Linked DNA regions of Homo sapiens: region 1 is linked to region 2. A link means that fine-mapping ties the variant in region 2 to the expression of a gene that starts in the linked region. Tissue or cell type: whole blood. Region 2 holds a variant in brackets; the other region holds the start of a gene. All regions are shown on one strand. Distances are from middle to middle.

Region 1 (8,096 bases), 160 kb before region 2:
TTTTTAGTAGAGATGGGGTTTCACCATGTTGGCCAGGCTGGTCTCCAACTCCTGACCTCAGATGATCTACTCGCATCGGCCTCCCAAAATGCTGGGATTACAGGCGTGAGATACCACACCTGGCAGCCCATCATGTTGCTTCTTAACAAGAGCCTGCTGAAGCAGGCTGGAGGAGGGCTGAGCTTTACAGAGAAAAACTGAGGCTCTAAGAAGCTGACGGAGTCAGGAATGGGGGTCTGTGTTCCAGACACAGCAGGCTTCTGCTCCTATCCCTGCTCTTGGAGGCCAGCCTAATTGCCACACTGCTGCTTGGTGGGCTACTCAGGGGAAGGAGCATCAGGGTTAGGTCCTGGGAGCACCTAGAAGAAGGGGACTCAGGGATGTGGAGGCAGCTCAGACTCTGGCACCTGATGGACCTGAGTTTGAATCCACCAATGCTGTCACCTAAAGCAAGTCCTTTAGTCTCTGTGACTGCGGACAGATTGGAGCCCAGGGAGGCCCAGCTGCCAGTCCCCTCAGGGCTTCCAGCCATGGGCACACAGGCACCTGCGATAGGAGCTAGGCCACAGACACAGGAAAGAGAGATATCTGGACTGGACTTGGGGGCTTTGGGAGTGGGGAGTGGGTCAGGGAGTAGTGGCCTGGGAAGCTGCTAAGGAACAGGTCAGAGGGAGATGGTCTGGGTGGTCACTGGGAACAGGTCAGAGGGTGGAGGCTGGGTGGTCACTGGAAGCATGTCCGAGGGTGGAGGCTGGGTGGTCACTGGAACAGGTCAGAGGGTGGAGGCTGGGTGGCCGCTGGGAGCAGGTCAGAGGGTGGAGGCTGGGTGGACACTGGGGAGAGAGTTGAGGGTGGTGGCCTTAGGGGTGTGGTTTCTGGGAGCACCACAGTGAGGGGAGAGGTGTGAGCACAGAGGGCAGCACAGTGTGGCGGCATTAAACAAGCCAAGAGAGGCAACAAGCAAGTCAGTGCAAGCGACGTAGCCCAGAGGCAGGAAGTGGGTAGTTTTGTGCAGTCCCGGAGGCCGGGGGAGCTCTTTCCACCTGTGTGGTTTCAGGAAGGACTTCGGTAATGCTGGGGCGAGGGTTGCAGGTGGGCCACTGCAGTTGCTGCGAGACCAGGTGCTTTACCTCGAGAATAAATCTCAATCCACCGCCTTCTCCCTGTCTTCACCAGCAGCCAAGGGCAGGCCAGCCCAGCTCCTCCCAGCCCTTCCTGCTCCACCCCTTCCCCTTCATCCACTCTCCCTTCAGCCCCTGGAGAGATGGCTTAGAAACAGACCAGAGCACACCACTCCCCTGCCTAAAACCCACCTGTGGCTTCTACTGAACTTGGGATAAAACCCACGCTCCTCTGTGTTCTCCCCCAGGGCCCTGCTGAACTCTTTGGTTTCATCCGCCTCCCTGCCCGAGGCTCGGCCTCGCTTGTGTTCCTTAAATGCACCGAGCGGGCCCCATTCTCCTGGCCTTCGCACGTGCTCTTCCTCCTGTGCTCTTCCAGCAGATCAGTCAGGGCTGCGGCCTCCCGCGTCTTGGTTTTCACTTAAACATCTCTTCCTTTAGAGAGGGCAAGATGATTGTCTCCACTCCCACCTTTCCCCTTGTTTATTTACTTCCCAGCACTTTTTATTCACTGAGTCAACAAATATCGATTGAGCACCTAGTATGCTCCAGGCACCATTCCAGGTGCTGGGGATACAGCAGTGAGGGGATACACCTCCCTTACAGGCTTCTCTTAGGCTGGGGAGACAGACACCAAATCATGGAGATATAAAGACATAAATTATGCACCGTGTTTGATGGTGATAAGAGTTGTGGAAAAGCAGAAAGAGAGAAATTAATTGATCGGTGTGTCTCTCTCCTCTGCGGAAGTGTGGGCTGAATGGGGGCTGGTGCTGAGTCTGGCTCGTGCCCCAGCATAGCCCGAAGCCCACACAGTGCCCACACATAGTAGGTGCTCATTGGGCAAATGAATGAATCAGTAGGGCCTGGGAGAACAGGGCCTGGGCGGAAGGAGAAGGTGCCCCAGTGAGAGGGAAGAGCGGGAGCAGGGCCTAGGACCTGAGGAGGTCCAATCTGGCCAGAGCAAATGGCCAGGGGAGGGAGTGGTGGGCTCCGAGGCTGGCACGGTGGTGGGCAGAGCTGGAACCACCCTAGGGAGGGTGCGTTTCAGCCCAGGAGGTTGACACGTGGCAGGCCAAGGTGCCTGGGAGCTTATGTAAGGCCCGTGGCTGTTTTTCTGGAATCAAGAGCAAAGCCCTGAGCTCAGGAGAAAACTCCGCCTCCCTGACCAGCCAGGGGAAGTGGCAGGAGGTGCCAACCCCTGCCCGTTGCCCCCGGGAGCCAGAGAAATGTCCAAATGCATCAGCTCCGGGTGGCTTGGTCGACAGCCCAGCAGCAGCTGGGTGGGCACCAGGGACGTGGACCCCATCTCTCAATCCCACGGCTCAGACTGGCCCTGTAGGGGTTCTAGGATCCCAGGGACCCCAGTGGACAAAGTTTTAGGGACTAGTACCCTTTGGGGTGAGGTGGTGAGGGGCAGGCCCTGGGAGTGGCTGTCCGTCCCATCTTGCCATTGACTGGTTGCGGAGGCTCTCGGCCAGCGAGGGCACCATCAGTTGTCATGAAGCCCGCCTGGGGGTCTGGTGCTGGGATTCTGGCCTCTCAACACCACCTAGTGCTTCACTTGGCTGGGTGCATAGCCTTGACAACCCGCTTTGTTCTCTTGGCCTCAGTTTCTTCACCTGCCAAATGGGCATAATAGTCCTCCTGAGGTTGTTGTGAGCATCAGACAAGGCCAGGGAGTAGAAGTGCTTTGAGTTGGAGTCGGAGCCAGCAAGATGATTTGCATCACCTAGAACAAAATGAAAATGTGGGACCTCTTGATAAGCAATTAAGAATTTCATGTTGGTGACAGAAGAATTCTAAAGCAAGTTCAGGGCCCTTCTGAGCACGGGGCCCTGTGCAGCTGCCTGAGCCACAGACCCAGGAAGCGGGCTCTGACCGGAATTCTTTTTTTTTTTTTTTTTTGGTGACAGAGTCTTGCTCTGTTGCCCAGGCTGGAATGCAGTGGTGTGATCTTGGCTCACTGCAACCTCCACCTCCCGGGTTCAAGTGATTCTCATGCCTCAGCTTCCCGAGTAGCTGAGATTACAGCGTGTGCCACCACACCCAGCTAATTTTTGTATTTTTAGTACAGATGAGGTCTCACTATGTTGGCCAGGTTGGCCTCAAACTCCTGACCTCAGGTGATCCACCCACCTTGGCCTCCCAAAGTGCTGGGATTACAGGTGTGAGTCACGTGCCTGGCCTTTGACTGGAATTCTATTTCTGCTGTTACTCTGCTACATGTCTGTCCTGTCCCTTCTCTGGGCCTCGGTTTCTTCATCTGTAAGGCAAGGAGGTTAGACTCTAAGATTCCTGGGTTCTCAGCCTTGTAAGGCAGTGGCTGGGAGGTCCCTGGGTCAAGGGCTCAGCTGTAGGTCTCAGCTCAGGGGTTACTTCCTCAGGGAAGCCAACTGTGATTCCCTCCTGGCTTGCCAGCGTTCCCCCAGTCTCTGATTCTGCAGCACCCCAACATTGCCTTTGTAACCTGCATTGTCCTGGCAATAATGTCTGTCTTTACAATCACCTCTTTTTTCTTGCAAGTTTTCTTTACCTTTGATGGTGCAATAAATACATAGCTCTAGTCTTGTAAAAAAGTTAAGATCCCTTCCTTCCTTCCTTCCTTCCTTCCTTCCTTCCTTCCTTTCTTCCCTCCCTCCCTCCCTCTCTCCCTCTCTCCCTCCCTTCCGTCTTTCTTTTCTGTCTATAATTACTTAAACATTTTTTCTCTTAAATAATGAAAGATTTCAAATACAGAAAATTGCCAATAGACAAAAAAAAAAGAGTTAATATCACAATTATATTCTAAGAAGGCTTTATTCTCCCCACTATCTTCGTTTGCCAAAACTGAGGCTCAGCCAGGGTGAGCAGACTTGCCCCATGATCACCCAGCTTGGAAGCAGATTCCAAGTTGGGTGCAGCTGGGCCCTCAGCTGTTTCGTAATCCTCATGCAAGAGTGAGGGTGAGGGGCCTGTGGGGCTCAGGTGGGGCTGTCAGAGCTGCATCCGTCCACTTATTGGTGGAGAGGCAGGTTGGGGAGCATGTACCAGGCCTGTCCCCACCACGTGCCACCCTCTCTGTCTTCCCCAGGGCTCCCAGCTCAGTGTGGACATGGCTGAGAGCGCCTCCCCGCCCTCCTCATCTGCAGCAGCCCCAGCCGCTGAGCCAGGAGTCACCACGGAGCAGCCCGGACCCCGGAGCCCCCCATCCTCCCCGCCAGGCCTGGAGGAGCCTCTGGATGGAGCTGATCCTCATGTCCCACACCCAGACCTGGCGCCTATTGCCTTCTTCTGCCTGCGACAGACCACCAGCCCCCGGAACTGGTGCATCAAGATGGTGTGCAACCCATATCCTCCGCAGCCTCGGCTGATCGGGGCCCTGCAGGGGCTGAAGGGTGGGGGGCTGGATTGAGTCCTGCTGCTCACACCTTGCTCCGGCTGGGAGACCTGAGGTCTGCGGTGAGGCCACTGGGCCTTGGTGGTGGTGAGCGAGCTCAGAGGGTGGGTCTGGGGAGACCTCAAATGGATGAGGACCTGGTGTTCTGCTGATGTGAAGGTTCTGGAAGTTGCTGGTGGCTGTGGGGTCAGTCCAGTGGCTGGCTGGCTCAGAAAGTCCTTGAGTGTGGGCCCCAGACCTGTGCTGGGCTGGGAATGCAGATCAGTCAGACTCTGGAGCCACCTGATGGGCCGTGACCATACAGAGGATGGGAGCCGTGATCAGGAACTGTGGGCGTGGGCAGCGGGGCAGCCGATCCCAACACACAGGGCAGGACTCATTCTCCTTACTGTGCCTCCGAGCAGCCTCTTCCCAGGCCTCCTGCCTCCACTTGCTGCCTCCAGTGGGCTCATGTTCCCCCTGCTTAAGACTGTCATGATTTGCTATGGTCCTGGAGGTGCAGAGCAAAGTCCTAATCCAACCCATCAGGGCCTGTGTGTTCCACCCAGCCTCACTTCCCACCACTTGGCTTCCCCCCTGTGCTCTTCTGAGCCTCAGGGTCCTCTCACTGGCTCTTCCCCCTGTCTGAAAAGCTTTTCCCTTCCCCCTGGACCTGGCCAAATCCTTTGCTACATCCTTAAAATCCCAGCTTAAGCATCACCTCCTCAGGGAAGCCCTCTGGGATTCCTCCTCTGCTTCATATCTAACTGTCACATCTAACTGTGGAATTCTGAATCTAACATTTGCCTCCCCTGGGGTACTGTCAGATGACTGGGATGGGGACCCTAGCACCTGGCACAGTGCTTGGCACATCGTGGGTGCTCTGGCAGTGTTTGCTGGGTGTACATGGGCAATGCCAGAGCTGACTCCTCAATAAGGAAGAGCGTTGGTTGGGTAGAGAGGGTAGTGGGAGGCAGGAGGAGGGCATGGCAGGAGCGAAGCCTGGAGAAGGGAGGAGTTGCAGGCAGTGTTGGAGCCCTGAGGGGCAGAGAGGAGTGAGGTGAGGCTGCAGGTGTGGCGGGAGCCCTGCAGGGCCTTGGAGGCTGCATGAGGGATGGGACTGTGCTCCAAGGGCAGGATTTGAAGCAGGGTCTGGAGAGATCTGTGCTCTGGAAGGACTGTGTGGCACTGGCTTGCAGGGTGAAGTGGGGGCTGGGGACCACTGAGGAGGAGGCTTGGGGACCCAAGCCATGGTGGCCTTGTGGTTTGAGGGTCCCACCAAAAAATGCCCATATGTGGCTCGAGGTTCTGGTGCTTGTGGCCACACAGGGCAGGGTGCGGGGAGCTGGTGGGTCAGGTGCAGGCCTGAGTCCTGCCCTGGAATCCAGGGATGCCAGATGCAGGCTGGGATGTTGAGACTGGCTGCAGGACTGCCAGGCTTCCCTTCTGTAGGGGGCTGAGGTGATCGTGGGCCCTGGATCCCCCTAACTTTTGGAAACCAGCGGGTCTCTGCTGGAGTGGGATGCAGAACTGGGTGTTCCTTGCTGGGTGGGGGCTAAGAGCCTCCCTGCTCCTTCTGGGGGACGGCTCACAGCGTCTCAGGCTTGGTGAGAGGGTCTGCTCGGTAATTAGTTCACCCAGCACTCACTGACATCTGCCCTGGGACACTGAGGACAAAGAGGCAGAGCTGGTGTCTGTCCCAGGGAGTGCCCGGGGAAGAGGGAAGCAGGGACCACCCATTTGGCTAGTTTTTTTTTTTAGATGGAGTCTCGCTCTGTCACCCAGGCTGGAGTGCAGTGGCGCGATCTCGGCTCACTGCAACCTCCGCCTCCCAGGTTCAAGCAATTCTCCTGCCTCAGCCTCCCGAGTAGCTGGGACTACAGGCACCCACCGCCATGCCCTACTAATTTTTGTATTTTTAGTAGAGATGGGGTTTCACCATGTTGGTCAGGCTGGTCTCGAACTCCTGACTCGTGAACCGCCTGCCTCGGCCTCCCAAAGTGCTGGGATTACAGGTGTGAGCCACTGTGCCCAGCCTACGTGGCTAGTTTTAATACAAAGCACTGGGGAAACCTCAGGGGCTTGTGGCATGTGAACAGAGGAGTGCCAGGCCTGAGAAGGGGGCGGCCGCAGGAATTTTGGGCCTTTAGGAAGAGAAAGGCTGGTAGGAGGACCAGGGGGACAATTTCACAATGTCTCAGGGGCCTTTCCTGGGTGAGATGACAAGAGTTGATTCTGGCTCTGTCACTTGGGTGCTGTGTGACCATGAGTAAGTCACTTTGCTTCTTTGAACCTTAGGGGGTCTGGATGGGCAATACTGCTCTGGGCTGGAGGCAGGGGCATGGCTCAGAGGACTTGGCCTGGGAGTCTGACCCAGCTGCGTCTCTGATGGGCTCTGGCTGGGCTGGCTGGGGTGCTGCCCACGTGTCACGGAGAGGCCCCTAGATGGGGGTGGTCAAGTCCTGTCTGCCATGTGTGTGACCCTGGGCAGTCTCCTCTCTCTGAGCCTCAGCACCTCCACCTAAAAAGGAGACGGCAGACGAATCACCCCTTCCAGCCCTGGGAGCCCAGGGTGTTAGCCACACACGCCATGGGGGCTGCCTTGATCTCAGGCACCCTGACGCCTGACCACTGAGTGAGCCAGCCCCTGGGAACCCACCCAGTTTTCCATATTTCTGGCCTGTTGGGCAAACAGAGTCCTTGGGGCCACTGTCTCCTTGGTTTTCACCACCCCTCTCACCTCCATCCTCAGGTCATGTGGGTTGTGGCCTGGGGTTGGAGACAACAGTGGGGCTGGCCCAGGAGGGAGAGGAGTACTGGTTTCGGGAGGAGCTGGGCCTGCCTCTTGTCTGTCTTGGAGAGAGCCCTGGGTCCAAGGGGTGGGGCAGAAAGCAGCCCCCCTCCATCAGGAGGGACTTTTCAGTCCCGGGAGCTGCGCAGAGCGAGGGTTCCCCCGGCATCCCCATGGCCAGGGCTGCTGAGGCTGGACTGGGATAGAGGTGGTTCAGGTCTCGGCCTTAACTGGTGGGATACGGACTCTCTTCAGGCCAGAGATGTGGCGACTCAAAAGCACAGCAACTTTAAAGGTGTCAGCTCTGGGACACTCAGACTGAAAACTTCTGCGACAGTCTAAGGGTTCAAAGTTAAGATTTAAGGCTCAGCGACACTGAAATTCTAAGCTTCTGTCATTCAAAGGCTGCAAAATTCTGTGTTTCAAAGAGTGTGTGAGCCTAAGACTTGGTGGCTGTGATGCTGTGTGCCTACGAGTTGGAGGATTCTGGACCCGGTGGCTGCAGCCGCTGCTGGCCTGAGAGTTCATAGCTGAATTGGGTCAGGTGGGAGAGGGGCCAAGGAGGGTTCCACAAACAGAGACCCAGGAGACGTGGCTGTCCATAGGGCTGTCCCCTGGAGCAGAGACTCAGTCGTGGGGAGCTCAGGGTGGGCTTTAGGGGCTTGGGATGGGGTGCGTGTGTGGGTGGGGCAGGGGCTGAAGCCTCTAGGATTCTTTCCTGGCTGGAAACTTCACTCCCTCTTGTGCTCTGTGGGAGGGGGCCTGGGGCAGTGCTTAAGCTTGTACTCCTCAATGGGACACCATTGGCATTTGGGGGTTGACGGTG
Region 2 (8,101 bases):
GCTCTGTCTCTGGTGTGGCCATTGTCCCACCCTGATGGAATTCTTTCCCCAGCAGGTGTTTCCCAGATCTTTGGGATGCTCCAGGCACTGCGCTAGGTTCTGGTGACCTTGTCCTTAAAGGATTTATGTGCTAGAAAGGACAGCAAGAGACTAGAAAAGGGATGAAGTTCCCTGCCTGCTTCTCTGACGTCCTTCTGTGTGGCTCTGCCATGTGCTCGGGACTCCCCTGCCTAAGTGACTTTCTTAAACTCCTCCTGGTCTCCGACGTCCTTCTTTGTGGCTCTGCCATGTGCTCGGGACACCCCTGCCTGAGTGGCCTTCCTAAACTCGTCCTGGCCTCAGGGCCTTTGCACGCAGGATCCCCTTTCTGCCCAGGATGTTGTTACCTTTTATCTTTTCAAGACTGGCTCCTCATCATGCAGATCTCAGCTCAAAGTTACCTATCTGGGGGAGTCTTTCTTGATTAGTCTTTATTTTTTTGAGACAGGGTCTCACTCTGTTGCCCAGGCTGCAGTGCAGTGGCATGATCACGATTCACTGCAGCCTTGACCTCCCGTCCTCAGGTGATCCTCCTGCCTCAGCCTCCTGAGTATCTGGGACTATAGGCATGTACCACCAGGCCTGGATAATTTTTGTATTTTTTTTTTGTAAAGATAGGGTTTCTCCATGTTGCCCAGGCTGGGCTCAAACCCCTGAGCTCAAGCAATCCGTCTGCCTTGGCTCCCAAAGTGCTGGGATTACAGGCATGAGCCACTGTGCCTGGCTAGATTAGTTTTACTCCCTACCCTGTTTCTTATTAATTCTGTTTCATTTTCTTGACAGCTCTTACCACTCTCTGAAGTTCTTAGCTGTCTGTTGTCTGTTTCCCACTAACTGGAACGTGAGGTCCATGAGAATAGAGATCTTGCTTGTCTTGTTCTCTATTAGATCCTAAAAGCTAGCCTAGAATAGCCTAGAATAGTTCCTGGCACAGAGCAGGTGTGCAGTAAATATTTGTTGATGAATAAAGTTCCACAAATGTCTATTGAGCACCCACTCTATGCCAGCCCCTGTGCTGGGCACTAGGAAATTGTAAGTCAATTTACAATGTACTGTGCTGCCGGCCATATTTCATTTAATCTTTGTAAGTGCCTCATTAAGAGGGAACTGATATTCTTTCCATTTTGTGAACTAGAAAATGGAGACCAGCAGTATCAATAACCTGTGACTGTAGTTTATATTGCCAATTATTTTCTGCCCCAGTGACAGCAGGCTCGGCCACATGGCTCACTTTGGCCAAGAAAATAGGAGAGAAGCAACACTTGCAAGAAGTTGTAAAAGTTGTCGTGCGGTCCCGCCGGTGTTCTTTCTCCTCTGCCATGAGAACGTGGCCACTCCTTCAGCCCGGATCCCGGAAAGATGGAGATGTGTGAGTCAGAGCCTCATCCGACAGCAGCTGATGTTTACCCCGAGTGAGAAACAAACCGTGAGTGCTCTAAGCCGCTGGGGACCGGGCTTGCTCCCACACCATAACTTCGCAAAAGCTGATGGAACGCATTGGCTTAAGGATTTTAAGAAGGGCATGCTTTCTGGGGGGCACATCTGTGGTTAGCTAGAGATGCCTTAAAGAGGTGGGAAGATGCCAGGCAGCAGTTCATAGTCCCTAAAACACTCACGTATTGTCCTGCTGAACTGGTGCCCCCCAGGTTTTCAGTCTGCCCGGCCCCCGCCGCCACCCCCCGCCACCACCCCCCGCCGCCCCAGTCTCCTCTTCCCATGGCTTTTGGCTTTTCTCGCTGGTCTCCCGTGCTCTTCCTGACTTTATCCTGTGCTCACCACTAGAGCAGGCATGTGGGAAAATCACTTGACCTTCAAACCTCAGTTTCCCCATCTGTAAGAGGGAGGCTGACAATACCTGTCTGGATTATATTTAGGATTAAGTGAGTTAACATGGGGAAGTGCTTAGCCCTCCACGGTGTGCACTGAATGGATGACTAAATAAACAAATGAATAGATCCTGGAGAGTCTGGAGCTAGAAGCTTCCCTGGCCCATGAAGCGGTCTTTGGGTCTGGGCTATTCCAATCCACACTCTTTGGGCTTGAGCCCCTCCAGAAAGGCTGATAAAGTGAGCGTTTCTGAACCTACAAAAGTGAGGTGGCGGTGACCCCAGCAAAGGGCAGCCCTCCCAACAAGCATCATTTTGAAGCAGGTGACAGCCTCATCTGCCCTGAGGTGGGGGTTGGGAGGTGAGAGTCTGTTAGAGCCCCCGACCAGAGGGACGCCGCCCTGGCACAGCTGTTCTCTTCTGAGTGCTACTCCTTGGGAGGCAGGCTCCTGGAGCAGGGCAATTGATTTCTGTATGGCAGACACAAAGGCCCACGCAAGGTGGGACCTGGAGAGATGCTGCGACAGTCAGTCAGTTCCAGGCTGGGGTTTGGCCTATATCCTTTTCAAAGAAGGCAGCACATCAGCGACTTGGTACCCTTGGTGTATGCCAAAAAGCCAGGCACCGAAAGATGCTCCTCCTTGTCAATTAACGGAACCGCGAATTCAGCTGGAGGAGCATACACGTGCTGCGGAATCATCGAACAGTGTCAGGTCAACCTAAAATCCCAGGACTATGCAAGACGTGGGAATCATGGAGATGAGAGAAGGAGACTAATAATTTTTGAGCATCTTCTATGTCCAGGGCATCTTGTAAGCATGATTTCCTTTAATTCTCACAATAACCAGGCAAGGTGGGTATGATGACTTTCCGAGGCAGTCGAAGGAACAGAGGCCTGGAAAGGCTGAGTACGGTCTAGGGCCGCAGAGCCAGGAAGGGTCAGGGCCTGGGCTCAAACCAGGACGATCTGATCCCAGGAACTGTGCCTTCCAGAAGCAGGTGCCTCCCACACCTGTGTGTAGTTTCCTCATGGTGACAAGGCCACACAGAAGGGCTGGCCTTGGGTTACACCGAGTTCTGCTGGGATCAGAACTGGGCCAAGCCCAGTGAGTTCCCGGGGGAGGTGCCTGCTTTTGTTGAAGTGTGTGTTCACATCTGAGTAGAGGAGAGGCTGCCTGTGGGAAAAGGGTTACAGGTCAAACTGTGTTCCTCAGAAAAGATATGCTGGAGTCCCAACCCCAGGTGCCTCTGCATGTGACCTTATTTGGAAACAGGGTCTTTATAAGGGTAATAAAATGAAGATGTGGCCATGGGGTGAGCCCTAAGTCAATCTCCTCGTGCTGTTATCAAAGGGAAATTTGGAGGCAGAGACTGCCACGTGCTTAGGGAATGATGTGGAGAGGCACCGGGAGAAGGCTGCGGCCAGGCAGAGGACAGGCCAAGGCACGCCACGGACTGCCGCCACCAGGAGAGTGGCAACAGAAAGGGGGCCTGTGCTGCATTCTCCCTGACGCCCTCAGAGGGAACTGAGCCTTCTGATGCCTGTATCCCAGGCTCCCAGAACTGGGAGACCATCAGCTTCTGGTATTTTAAGTCACCCAGTCTGTGGCTCCCTGTTAGGGCAGCCCCAGGGAACTAGTACAGGGGACATCGTGGTGCACTTGGTTCCCCTCTGCTGTTGGAACCCCTCATCTTGGTTCCCAGTGACGACAGCCCTCTTCCTCTGCAAAATCAGGGCCCTGTAGCAAACAGAACAGCTCAGCTTCTGGCCGAGGGCTTTGGTGATGTTTCTGGTAACACCAGTATTCGCACCGGAAGTCGCCCCCCGTCCCCCGCCTCTGCCCCCAAAGAGCTGTGGTAAAGATCGTGTTCTTATCGTATCACATTGTAAGTGCCGCTGTGTTGCCCAGGGTATAGATGAACACTCCGCAAGGCCTGGAGACCTGGGCATTCCTCCCGCAGAGAAATCACGGGAAAGACACGTGCTCACTCCCAACCCTGTCCCACTCCCAGGGTTATTTACAAACTCTTTAACATTTGCAATTTTAAGGAATTAATTGATTGTCTATTAATATTGAAGCATCTGTGTTTATTTTTCCATGTGGTAATGATCACATGCTAAGAACGTGGCAAACACCGCTATGCTCTAATGGTAAACAGCGGAACAGCATCACCACAGACCGCAGCAGATTGGTCGCTGAAATTCACCCTCTTACCGACTGTCATTTAGGCATCTAGACGAAATCAGTGATAACCACCCTCCTGCTTCAGCTCATCTGCAGACTCTGAGGGGTCCTGGTTTTGTGTAACATCATTTCCAATAACTTTGACCTTCTTAGAGGAAGAAGCCAAGATTAATGAGCCACATGAAAACACTAATTTCTATATATTAGAGATGATGAAATATGTCGATGGCTTAAACAAAGCTAATCTATGAGATTAAGAATATAGAGGCTGGGCGCGGTGGCTCACGCCTGTAATCTTAGCACTTTGGGAGGCTGAGGCGGGCAGACCACAAGGTCAGGAGATCGAGACCATACTGGCTAACATGGTGAAACCCCGTCTCTACCAAAAAATACAAAAAAATTAGCCAGGCGTGGTGGCAGGCACCTGTAGTCCCAGCTACTCGGGAGGCTGAGGCAGGAGAATGGCCTGAACCCAGAAGGCGGAGCTTGCAGTGAGCCGAGATCACGCCACTGCACTCCATGCTGGGTAACAGAGCGAGACTCCGTCTCAAAAAAAAAAAAAATA[T/A]ATATGTGTATATATATATATATATATATATATATATATATATATATATGTGACAATTTTAAGGGCAGGGACTCCATGTTGAGTTGTTGGCAGCTGACTGAATCCTGATGCTTCCCTGTGCTAGGGGAGGGGGCTGGGGGCCGTATAACCAGCGGGAGAGGATGCCTCCTGTTATGGACTGAATGTGTCCCTCCCAAATTCAGATGTCAAAACTCTAACCTATAATGTGATGACATTAGGAGGTGGGGCCTTTGGGGGGTAATTAGGTCACGAGGGTGGGGCCCTCATGTGGGATTAGTGCCTTTATAAAGGAGACCCCAGAAAGCTCTCTCACCCTCTTTCCTGCCTCATGACGCTATAATGAGAAGTTTTCTAGAACTGTGAGGGCTACGTTTCTCTTGTCTGCAAGTCACCCAGCCAATGGCCTTTTGTTACAGCAGCGCAAATGACTAAGACATGGCTCGCATCAGAAATCTTGAGGGAGGCACCAGCCCACTGCTCAGAGCTGTGTGACCTCAAGCTAGTGACCCAGCCTCTCTGAGTCCTCCATTCCTCCTCTGCCTAGCTCTCCAGGGGGCAATGAGGCCAAACAGAGATGTGGTAAGTGCTTTGCCGACTGTAGAGTGCTCCACAAGTGTCAGGAAGCACAAGGCCCAGGGGACTTGGCCAGACTGAGCAGTGGACACCTTCTGAGGCAAACAACCAGTGTATCCCGCTAACTTGTGGGTTCACTTTTTCCTCCCAGAGCTTCCTACAGTAAAACAAAGCAGAGAGCCACAGGCCCCTGGATGACACTTGGCAGCCACCCCCACCCCCGCCAAGCAGCAGGTAAGAGCTGTGGGACCCCTTGTTCCTAAGCCACACACTATTCCTGTCCTTGACGGGGACCATGGCTAGTTAAGGCGATAATTGCAGCCATCCTTATCAATACAGCAATGACAATTTAGAGGCAGAGGTGGCAGAAACACACTCAGTAGTGGTCCCCACAGACAAGTGAGTACACCGGCACCCATCTGTTGAGCTGCAGACAAATTCCCCTGGGAAGGACAAGACGTGGTCAGGAGCAGAGCTCAGTGGAAAGGCCACCCCCTCTGCTGGGCAGCCTTTGTGGAGAGGGTTCGGAAAGCCCATCCCCCTGCAGGTCTCACAGCTTCTGGTGGCTCCTATTTACTTTGGGGCACACACGAGGATCTGATGGACAGGGCTGGAGGTGCAGCTCCTGTGCCTCTCTGTAAGGGTCCCTCCCTCGTGTACATATGAACACACGAGAGTTGTGGCTAAATGGATCCTTGACAGCCCCAGGGGGGACAATGAAGCAGTGAGCCTGCTGGGCCTGCCCCCTGGAGACCATGCCTCCCTGCCTGCCAGGAAGACCAACCTCCTGCCCCTGCCTGCTTCTGTCATCCTCCAATCAGCTTCTCAGTGAGGTCCCATCGGTCCCTTCTCCAAAGGCTTTCCGGCTGCCAGCCGATGCTGTCTGCAGTGGGTCTGCTACTGACTTACCATTCTGACCTTGTGAAATGGAGAGAAGCTCTCGGCGCTGCTGGTCCCCAGGAGTTAGATCTGTTCTCCTGTGAGATCGGCTAAACCTGGCCTTCTTACTGGCGCGGGGTGACGGGCTTGTTTTCCTCTTTTGCTGGTTCTCTTTATCCTTGGAATTGGTGCTTTTCACATTGTGTTTACCCTCACATTTGGCTTAATCCAGTGAGGTGCTGTTTCTCATTTTCCCCCCCGACTTTTGGCTTTGGGGAGGTGGCGAGGGCGTGCACAGGTGGAACAGAACAGGTTTTATGTGAACAGAAGCTGCTCCTTTGGGGTTGGTGGCCCTCCCGGCCACTCCCCTACACAATGCGTGTGGAGGGAAAGCAGACGCCCATCGGCAGCACAGGGATGATGAAACTAACCGCTAAAGAGACACTACTAAGTGCCCCCACTTTATTTTTCAAAAGTATGGACATATTATTGCTTTATGTCCCTGAATTCATATTTTTTTCTTTAGTCTCTGTTGGCTATTTCTGGGTTGCTCTGTGTGATTTTCAGGAGCATATTACATACTCCAGAGACAGAGACCCCATTGTAGTAAACGAAAATTCTCCCCCAGGGTGAAACAGTGACAACAGTCCCCAATTAAAATCAAAGTGTGTGGGGGCTCCATGACATTCTCAAGGTTTGATTAGGTGAGAAAGAGAAATTGGGACAGGCTCTTCATCTCCAAACCAGCTCTAAAAATGTTCTACTCCTGTCCCAGCCTCTGCTAATTTGGGTCTTGAAATGAAAGGGGCAGGGAAGGGATTGGGAAGTGTGGGTGGAGGCAGACAACTCTTCAGAAATGGGAGGCACCAAAAGAAGATCCAGAGGGTCTGGGGTGCGGCTGCAGCCCAGCAGCTCCTGGCAGTGGGACTGGGGCAGCCTGAGAGCAGGATGAGACTGAGGGGCAGGGGTGGAAAGGCAGAAGCAAGGGATGGCCCGGCTGGACCTGTTCCCCTTCTTCCCATCTGCCTGGCCCAGCCAATGGCACCAACTGTGAGGCAGTGTGTAGCTCTAAGCAAGACCATGGTTCAAGGTCTGGCTTTGACCCTGACTACTGCCTGTGTGGCCCTGGACAAGTTCCTTAGCTCATTTTAGTCTCTGTTTTCTCATATACAATGTGACGATCTAACCTTCCCGGTAGGGTTGTTAAGAGGATTAAAACATGCTCGTGACATTGTTAGTGTTTGTTAAGTGTCAACTACTATTATTATTATTAAACCGGAATTCTGGAGCTCATCCCTATTTAGAGATAGAGTCTCACTATGTTGTCCAGGGTGGCCTTGAACTCCTGGGCTCAAGCAATCCTCCTGCTTCAGTCTCATGAGTAGCTAAAACTACAGGCCCCACTGCACCTGGCTTCAACCCCATTTTTAACATTTATTTTATTTTTAAGGTTTTCTTTTTTTTTTCTTTTACCTTAAGTTCTGAGATACATGTGCAGAATGTGCAGGCTTGTTACGTAGGTATACATGTGCCATGATGCTTTGCTGCACCTATCAACCTGTATTTTAGGTTTTAAGCCCCGCATGCATTAGGTGTTTGTTCTAATGCTCTCCCTCCCCTTGTCCCCTCCCCACCCCCCAACAGGCCCCAGTGTGTGATGTTCCCCTCCCTGTGTCCATGTGTTCTCATTGTTCAACTCCCACTTATGAGTGAGAGCATGTGGTGTTTGGTTTTCTGTTCCTGTGTTAGTTTGCTGAGAATGATGGCTTCCAGCTTCATCCATGTCCTTGCAAAGGACATGATCTCATTCTTTTTTATGGCTGCATAATATTCCATGGTGTACATGTGCCACAGTTTCTTTATCCAGTGTATAATTGACAGGCATTTGGGTTGGTTCCAAGTCTTTGCTACTGTAAATAGTGCTGCAATAAACATACGTGTGCATGTGTCTTTATAGTAGAATAATTTATAATCCTTTGGGTATATACCCAGTAATGGGATTGCTGGGTCAA

What was found. PIP is the estimated chance that this variant, and not a neighbour inherited with it, causes the effect.
Region 1: it holds the start of CACNA1I, and the variant in region 2 is fine-mapped to the expression of CACNA1I in whole blood (INTERVAL, PIP above 0.99).

The regions. Positions count from the first base shown.
Region 1 is chr22:39,566,538-39,574,633 of GRCh38, forward strand. It overlaps CACNA1I (calcium voltage-gated channel subunit alpha1 I), which reads left to right and starts at 4,216. Exons shown (of 37, transcript NM_021096.4): 1 at 4,216-4,451. The coding sequence starts at 4,216.
Region 2 is chr22:39,726,337-39,734,437 of GRCh38, forward strand. No RefSeq gene overlaps it. Among named protein-coding and RNA genes, the nearest start is that of CACNA1I, 160 kb to the left of the region's middle. The variant T/A (reference allele first, on the strand shown) is at 4,617.